2 linked regions of the Homo sapiens genome follow. The protein of the gene in region 1 purifies or fractionates together with the protein of each later gene. This does not show direct contact. Each region holds a gene or a part of one and is shown in the gene's direction. Other genes may lie near its edges.

Region 1 (3,749 bases):
TGAGACCAGCCTGACTAACATGGAGAAACCCTGTCTCTACTAAAAACACAAAATTAGCCGGGCATGGTGGCACATGGCTACTCAGTCCCAGCTACTCAGGAGGCTGAGGCAAGAGAATTGCTTGAACCCGGGAGGCAGAGGCTGTGGTGAGCCGAGGGTGAGCCGAGATTGCGCCATTGTACTCCAGCCTGGGCGACAAGAGCGAAACTCCGAAACTCCATGTCCAAACAAAAAAAGAAACATTTCTCTGAGCCAAGATAATGTTGAGGGGGAAATGATCACAGAATAGCATATATGTATCATAATCTTATGTAAAATGGTGTAAATCTATAATTATGTATGCATATAATATGTGCAAAGTAGTAATGTTCATCAAGTTGTAAACAATGGTTATCTCTGGACTAGGATTCCAAATGACCTTTCCCCTATTTTTTTTGAGACAAGTCTCACTCTGTTGCCCTAGCTGGAATGCAGTGGTGCAATCATGGCTCACTGAAGCCTCAACCTCCTGAGCTTAAGCAATCCTCCCGCCTCAGCCTCCCAACGTGCAGGGATTACATGCATGAGCCACCACGCCCAGACTAAATATGTGTTAAACTAAAGCAGAAGCATCATTACCCGAGTAGGCTCTATAGGAGGAAAGAGGAGACAAGTGAGGAAAGGAGAGAGAATGAAAAAAAGAGACTTAAATTGTAAGCATTGAAGGTTAGGATGGGAAGGCGATTCGCATTTAAATCTCAGGACCCCATTTAGGCTTCTACCTCCCTGACCGCTGGGAGGCTGGTTGCTTTTCACCCCTCTGGGTTCACTTCTATTTGTCTGTGAGCTGTCAGCATCCTTCCCCACTTGTCTTGCCCTGCCTCTGCCAGGGAGGCAGAGTTGGGAGTCGTGGCACAGGCATGCACGCTGTGCAGCCTCCCACACCTGCACCCTGAAAGACCAACAGACACCCTAAGAAACCTGATACACAAGCACAAACTGATAAGATACCCAAAAAGTCAAAGGCAGACAGCAAAACATGGCTAATATTACACAGTACTGCAAGAGAAAGTAACACCAAAACAAAACAAAACACAGACATCATCTCTCAGTTCCTTCTCAAATAAAAAAAAAAGGCCAGGTGCAGTGGCTCACACCTGTAATCCCAGCACTTTTGGAGGCCGAGGTGGGCGGATCACTTGAGGCCAGGAGTTTGAGACTAACCTGGCCAACCATGGCCAACATGGTGAAATCCCCCTATCTCTACTAAAAATATAAAAAATTAGCCGGGCGTGGTGGCTGGCACCTGTAATCCCAGCTACTGAGAGGCTGAGGCAGGAGAACTGCTTGAACCTGGGAGGTGGAGGTTGCAGTGAGCTAAGATTGTACCACTGCACTCCAGCCTGGGCAACAGAGTGTGACTCTGTCTCAAAAAAAAAAAAAAAAAAAGGGTGGGTGAGGTGGTGGCTCACACCTGTAGTCCTAGCACTTTGGGAGGCCAAGGTGGAAGGCTCTCTTGAGGCTAGGAATTCGAGACCTGCCTGGACAACAGACAGAAACACTGTCTCTACAAAAAATAAAAAAACTAGCTAGGTGTGGTGGTGTGTGCCTGTAGTCCCAGGTACTTGGGAACCTGAGCAGGAGGACTGCTTGAGACCAGGGAGCTGGGCCTGCAGTGAACCATGGTTATGCCCCTGCACTCCAGATAGGGTGAAATGGGTAGTTTTTCACTTGATCTCCTCCTCATTGTCTCTTACGTTTAAACAAGTCTCAAACCTGGTGCAGAGGTGCATGTACCTCCATTGCTGGACAAGGCCTGACTTTTGCCTGCTGGTAGGGCCTCCTCAGTTCTAACCAGCCTTCTGTGACCTCATTCTCTATCCTGGTTCCATTTTCCACTTTGTGACTTCATCAGTTAAAGATCCCATTTCAGCCACCAAGGTTGAGAGGCCCCAAGACCCAGTTCCTTTACAGAATCAACCCTGGGGTGGCTTTAGGACTGGGCTCTTTGGAGCTCATCCTTGGACCCACAGTGGAGTGCTGGTCCGTGCTGATGTCTTCAGATACCAATCAATGGGCATTTGGCTCCTTGCTTCCACTGACCTCTTGAGTACTTTCAACGATCGGTGTCAGGAGTGCCCCAGCTGCTGTTTCTAGAGCATCTCTGCAACCCACGGTGGCCTCTCCTCTCTCTGCGGGCCATGGACAGCACAGTCCCTTCAGCCCTGGAGCTGCCCCAGCGGCTGGCACTGAACCCAAGGGAGAGCCCGAGGAGTCCAGAAGAGGAGGAGCCCCACCTGCTGAGCAGCTTGGCTGCAGTCCAGACCCTGGCCAGTGTCATCCGGCCTTGCTATGGCCCCCACGGCCGGCAGAAGTTCCTGGTGACCATGAAAGGAGAAACAGTGTGCACGGGGTGTGCCACTGCCATCCTCAGGGCCCTGGAGCTGGAGCACCCAGCAGCATGGCTCCTCCGGGAAGCAGGACAAACCCAGGCAGAGAATAGTGGGGACGGCACAGCCTTCGTGGTTCTGCTGACGGAAGCCTTGCTGGAACAGGCAGAGCAGCTGCTGAAGGCTGGCCTGCCTCGCCCGCAGCTCCGGGAGGCCTACGCCACGGCCACTGCAGAGGTCCTGGCCACACTGCCCTCCCTGGCCATCCAATCTCTGGGGCCTTTGGAAGATCCATCCTGGGCCCTCCATTCTGTGATGAATACCCACACCCTGTCCCCCATGGACCACTTGACCAAGCTGGTGGCCCACGCCTGCTGGGCTATCAAGGAACTAGACGGCAGCTTCAAGCCTGAGCGTGTTGGGGTGTGCGCGCTGCCCGGGGGGACACTGGAGGATTCCTGCCTCCTCCCGGGGTTAGCAATATCTGGGAAGCTCTGTGGGCAAATGGCCACAGTGTTAAGTGGTGCCAGGGTGGCTCTCTTTGCTTGCCCCTTTGGTCCTGCCCATCCAAATGCACCAGCAACGGCCCGTCTTTCTAGTCCTGCTGATCTAGCTCAATTTAGTAAAGGAAGCGATCAATTACTAGAAAAGCAAGTAGGCCAGCTAGCAGCTGCAGGAATTAATGTGGCAGTGGTGTTGGGGGAGGTCGACGAGGAGACCCTCACACTGGCGGACAAGTATGGCATCGTGGTGATTCAAGCTAGGTCTTGGATGGAGATCATTTACCTGAGTGAGGTGTTGGACACACCTCTGCTGCCTCGTCTGCTCCCTCCCCAGAGGCCAGGCAAGTGCCAGAGGGTTTACAGGCAGGAGCTGGGAGATGGTTTGGCTGTGGTATTTGAATGGGAATGTACAGGCACACCTGCCCTCACTGTGGTTCTCAGGGGAGCCACCACCCAGGGGCTGCGGAGTGCAGAGCAGGCCGTCTACCACGGCATTGATGCCTATTTCCAGCTATGTCAAGATCCCAGACTGATTCCAGGAGCTGGGGCCACAGAAATGGCTTTGGCAAAAATGCTTTCTGATAAAGGAAGCAGATTGGAAGGGCCCAGTGGGCCTGCATTCCTAGCATTTGCCTGGGCCCTGAAGTATCTTCCTAAAACTTTGGCAGAGAATGCAGGCTTAGCTGTCTCAGACGTGATGGCAGAAATGAGTGGAGTGCACCAAGGTGGGAACCTCCTAATGGGTGTGGGAACTGAAGGGATAATAAATGTGGCCCAGGAAGGGGTGTGGGACACCCTAATAGTCAAAGCCCAAGGATTTCGAGCAGTGGCTGAGGTGGTGCTACAGCTCGTGACTGTAGATGAAATCGTAGTGGCC
Region 2 (3,749 bases), on another chromosome or scaffold:
GATCCGCTGTTAGTCTGATGGGCTTCCCTTTGAGGGTACCCCAACCTTTCTCTCTGGCTGCCCTTAACATTTTTTCCTTCATTTCAACTTTGGTGAATCTGACAATTATGTGTCTTGGAGTTGCTCTTCTCGAGGAGTATCTTTGTGGCATTCTCTGTATTTCCTGAATCTGAATGTTGGCCTGCCTTGCTAGATTGGGGAAGTTCTCCTGGATAATATTCTACAGAGTGTTTTCCAACTTGGTTCCATTCTCCCCATCACTTTCAGGTACACCAATCAGATGTAGATTTGGTCTTTTCACATAGTCCCATATTTCTTGGAGGCTTTGCTCGTTTCTTTTTATTCTTTTTTCTCTAAACTTCCTTCTCACTCCATTTCATTCATTTCATCTTCCATCATTGATAGCCTTTCATCCAGTTGATCGCATCGGCTCCTGAGGCTTCTGCATTCTTCACGTAGTTCTCGAGCCTTGGCTTTCAGCTCCGTCAGCTTCTTTAAGCACTTCTCTGTATTGGTTATTCTAGTTATACATTCTTCTAAATTTTTTTCAAAGTTTTCAACTTCTTTGCCTTTGGTTTGAATGTCCTCCCGTAGCTCGGAGTAATTTGATTGTCTGAAGCCTTCTTCTCTCAGCTCGCCAGAGTCATTCTCCGTCCAGCTTTGTTCCGTTGCTGGTGAGGAACTGCATTCCTTTGGAGGAGGAGAGGCGCTCTGCTTTTTAGAGTTTCCAGTTTCTCTGCTCTGTTTTTTCCCCATCTTTGTGGTTTTATCTACTTTTGGTCTTTGATGATGGTGATGTACAGATCGGTTTTTGGTGTGGATGTCCTTTCTGTTTGTTAGTTTTCCTTCTAACAGACAGGACCCTCAGCTGCAGGTCTGTTGGAGTACCCGGCCGTGTGAGGTGTCAGTCTGCCCCTGCTGGGGGGTGCCTCCCATTTAGGCTGCTCGGGGGTCAGGGGTCAGGGACCCACTTGAGGAGGCAGTCTGCCCATTCTCAGATCTCCAGCTGCGTGCTGGGAGAACCACTGATCTCTTCAAAGCTGTCAGACAGGGACATTTAAGTCTGCAGAGGTTACTGCTGTCTTTTTGTTTGTCTGTGCCCTGCCCCCAGAGGTGGAGCCTACAGAGGCAGGCAGGCCTCCTTGAGCTGTGGTGGGCTCCACCCAGTTGGAGCTTCCCAGCTGCTTTGTTTACCTAAGCAAGCCTGGGCAATGGCGGGCGCCCCTCCCCCAGCCTCCCTGCCACCTTGCAGTTTGATCTCAGACTGCTGTGCTAGCAATCAGCGAGACTCCGTGGGCGTAGGACCCTCCGAGCCAGGTGCGGGCTATAATCTCCTGGTGCACCGTTTTTTAAGCCTGTCGGAAAAGCACAGTATTTGGGTGGGAGTGACCCGATTTTCCAGGTGACCCGTTTCTTTGACTAGGAAAGGGAACTCCCTGACCCCTTGTGCTTCCCGAGTGAGGCAATGCCTCGCCCTGCTTCGGCTCGCGCATGGTGCGCACACCCACTGACCTGCGCCCACTGTCTGGCACTCCCTAGTGAGATGAACCTGGTACCTCAGATGGAAATGCAGAAATCACCCGTCTTCTGTGTCGCTCAGGCTGGGAGCTGTAGACCAGAGCTGTTCGTATTTGGCCATCTTGGCTCCTCCCCCTTCTCTTTTGTTATGAGTGGTCAGGGATGTCCTCTCCGGGGTGGTGGTATTTGAGCAGACATATGGATAAAGTATGGAAGTGACACACAACTTTATTGAGAAAGACCATCTCAGGCAAATATAAAGTCTCTGAAGAGGAAGATGTGTGTGTATGTGTGTGTGTGTGAGTATAAATAATGTGTATATGTATGTATATTTTAATAACCACATAGACTAAAACTATCCAACTGAAACAACTTAGGTATACTTTGAGAAATATAAAATGAAATTGTAAGGTAGAGGTAGCATTAATAAACTATCTAGTATACCATTAAATAAGTTTGTGGTGATTGGTGATTCAACACCCGAATCATCTAGGTAAATCCTGAAAAACTCATATTTTATTAATTGCTTCTCCTTCCCCTTCTTTCCCCGTCCCCACTCCTTTCTCGTCTCTTTCCCCCCCTCTCCTTTTCTCCCATCTTTCACTTCTAATTTCAGTGAAATTGGAGCGATTTGAAATTCCAATCAAGGTTCGATTAAGCCCAGAGCCATGGACCCCTGAAACTGGTTTGGTAACTGATGCTTTCAAACTGAAAAGGAAGGAGCTGAGGAACCATTACCTCAAAGACATTGAACGAATGTATGGGGGCAAATAAAATGTTGTTGTCTTATTGACAGTTGTGCAGGAGGTAGCCTGGTGGTTTTCAACCTCTAGAATTTTAAGCCTTTGTTGAACTGTTAGAATGTAAGGTATATCATTCTAAAGATAGAGTAAAAAGAAAACAAAACCAAAAGTTATTAAAATTGTTGTCCGGTTTACTTTAACTTAGTTTTGCATAGTTCTAGTGCAGCTGAAATTGAAAAGTTATTTCCCTTTAGCTGTGTTATTATAGAGCAGAAATTCTGTTTTTAAAAATTAGCCTAAGATATACTTGTTTTTGTAAAGAAAAATATTTAATGTTGAACAAAATAAATTGGAGTTGGAGTAGAATGTAGTTTGAGGAAATTTGCAGCTTCCAATGCCTCTTGTCTTCCTATTTCAGAAGTTTAAATATTAAGCATGACAGAAAATATGTATTAACACTACTCAAAGCAAAAGTGCTGCAGGGCTTTAAAATTCTCTTCCAACCATTTATCTTGAAGGAAAAATTCAATAGTAATATAATACACAAAATCAAATAATACCTTAGAAGGTATTAAGATTATAATTGTTGCATAGGTTAGATATAGAGTCATTGTAATGTTGTGAATAATTACAGTGCCTAAAATAAGAATAGAACAACATATACAACACCAAAAAATATCTAGTAATATATTTAAAGGGAAATTGAGCTGCTTTTTTTGAAACTTTGAGATCTAAAAATAACTGTAATTATTTGAATGACTAAGAGGAAAGTACATTTTTTGAAATGCTGAAAATTGCCTTTCTGTGTTTATTCAAACTGAAAAGCTGAGACCAAGAGCAAGGAAGGTAAAAAGTTAACAGGCAAACATTTTCTCTTAGAAAAGGTGATAAAATCATAAGTATTTGGAATTAGAACCCTTGCACAGCACTGAACCTGGGAAAGAGATTTAAACTCTGAATTTATCTTTGATAACAGGGATTGATTTTAAAATGTACATGTATTAAATTACATTTGTAATTTAAGGTCTGTTTGCTGTTGCTGATTTTATTCTTGATCAGTAGTTTGCATTTCAGAAAGCCTTTCATTTTGCTTTAATTTTAGCAAAGCGGGTTATAATGAATGACTTCCCCAATATCTTGCTTGAACTTACAGGTGATTAACTTGGATGAGTTTTGGGAAGTTAAAGGGAAGAAAACACTGTTATCATTTTTTCCTGTTTGGGAAGAGCTTAGAAACTGGAAATACTAGATTTGGGAGAAGGGCAGAGTTACTTGATAAGGGACTGATGTTTGTGCAGTAACTTGGGAGTGTGGTTTCTTTTTGAATCTTTAATTAAAACCTGGGATTATATATCCCTGATAAATATTCACACTTGAACCATAGTTACTGTAAAATGCAAAAAATCTTAATACTGTTATTCTTTGCACTTTTTCTTAATCATTTTTTATATATATGCATATATATATGTGTGTGTGTGTGTTGCTTAT

What was found.
Region 2: the proteins of CCT8L2 (region 1) and ACSL4 purify together in Homo sapiens (co-immunoprecipitation; 2 studies listed by BioGRID and IntAct, with this or other methods). This does not show direct contact.

Annotation. Positions count from the first base shown.
Region 1 is NC_000022.11:16,590,982-16,594,730, reverse strand, and holds the start of CCT8L2 (T-complex protein 1 subunit theta-like 2), read left to right. Parts: upstream 1-1,920; 5' UTR 1,921-2,180; coding exon 2,181-3,749. UniProt on the Homo sapiens protein: Possible molecular chaperone; assists the folding of proteins upon ATP hydrolysis.
Region 2 is NC_000023.11:109,642,572-109,646,320, reverse strand, and holds part of ACSL4 (long-chain-fatty-acid--CoA ligase 4), read left to right. Parts: intron 1-2,134; coding exon 2,135-2,292; 3' UTR 2,293-3,749. UniProt on the Homo sapiens protein: Catalyzes the conversion of long-chain fatty acids to their active form acyl-CoA for both synthesis of cellular lipids, and degradation via beta-oxidation. Preferentially activates arachidonate and eicosapentaenoate as substrates.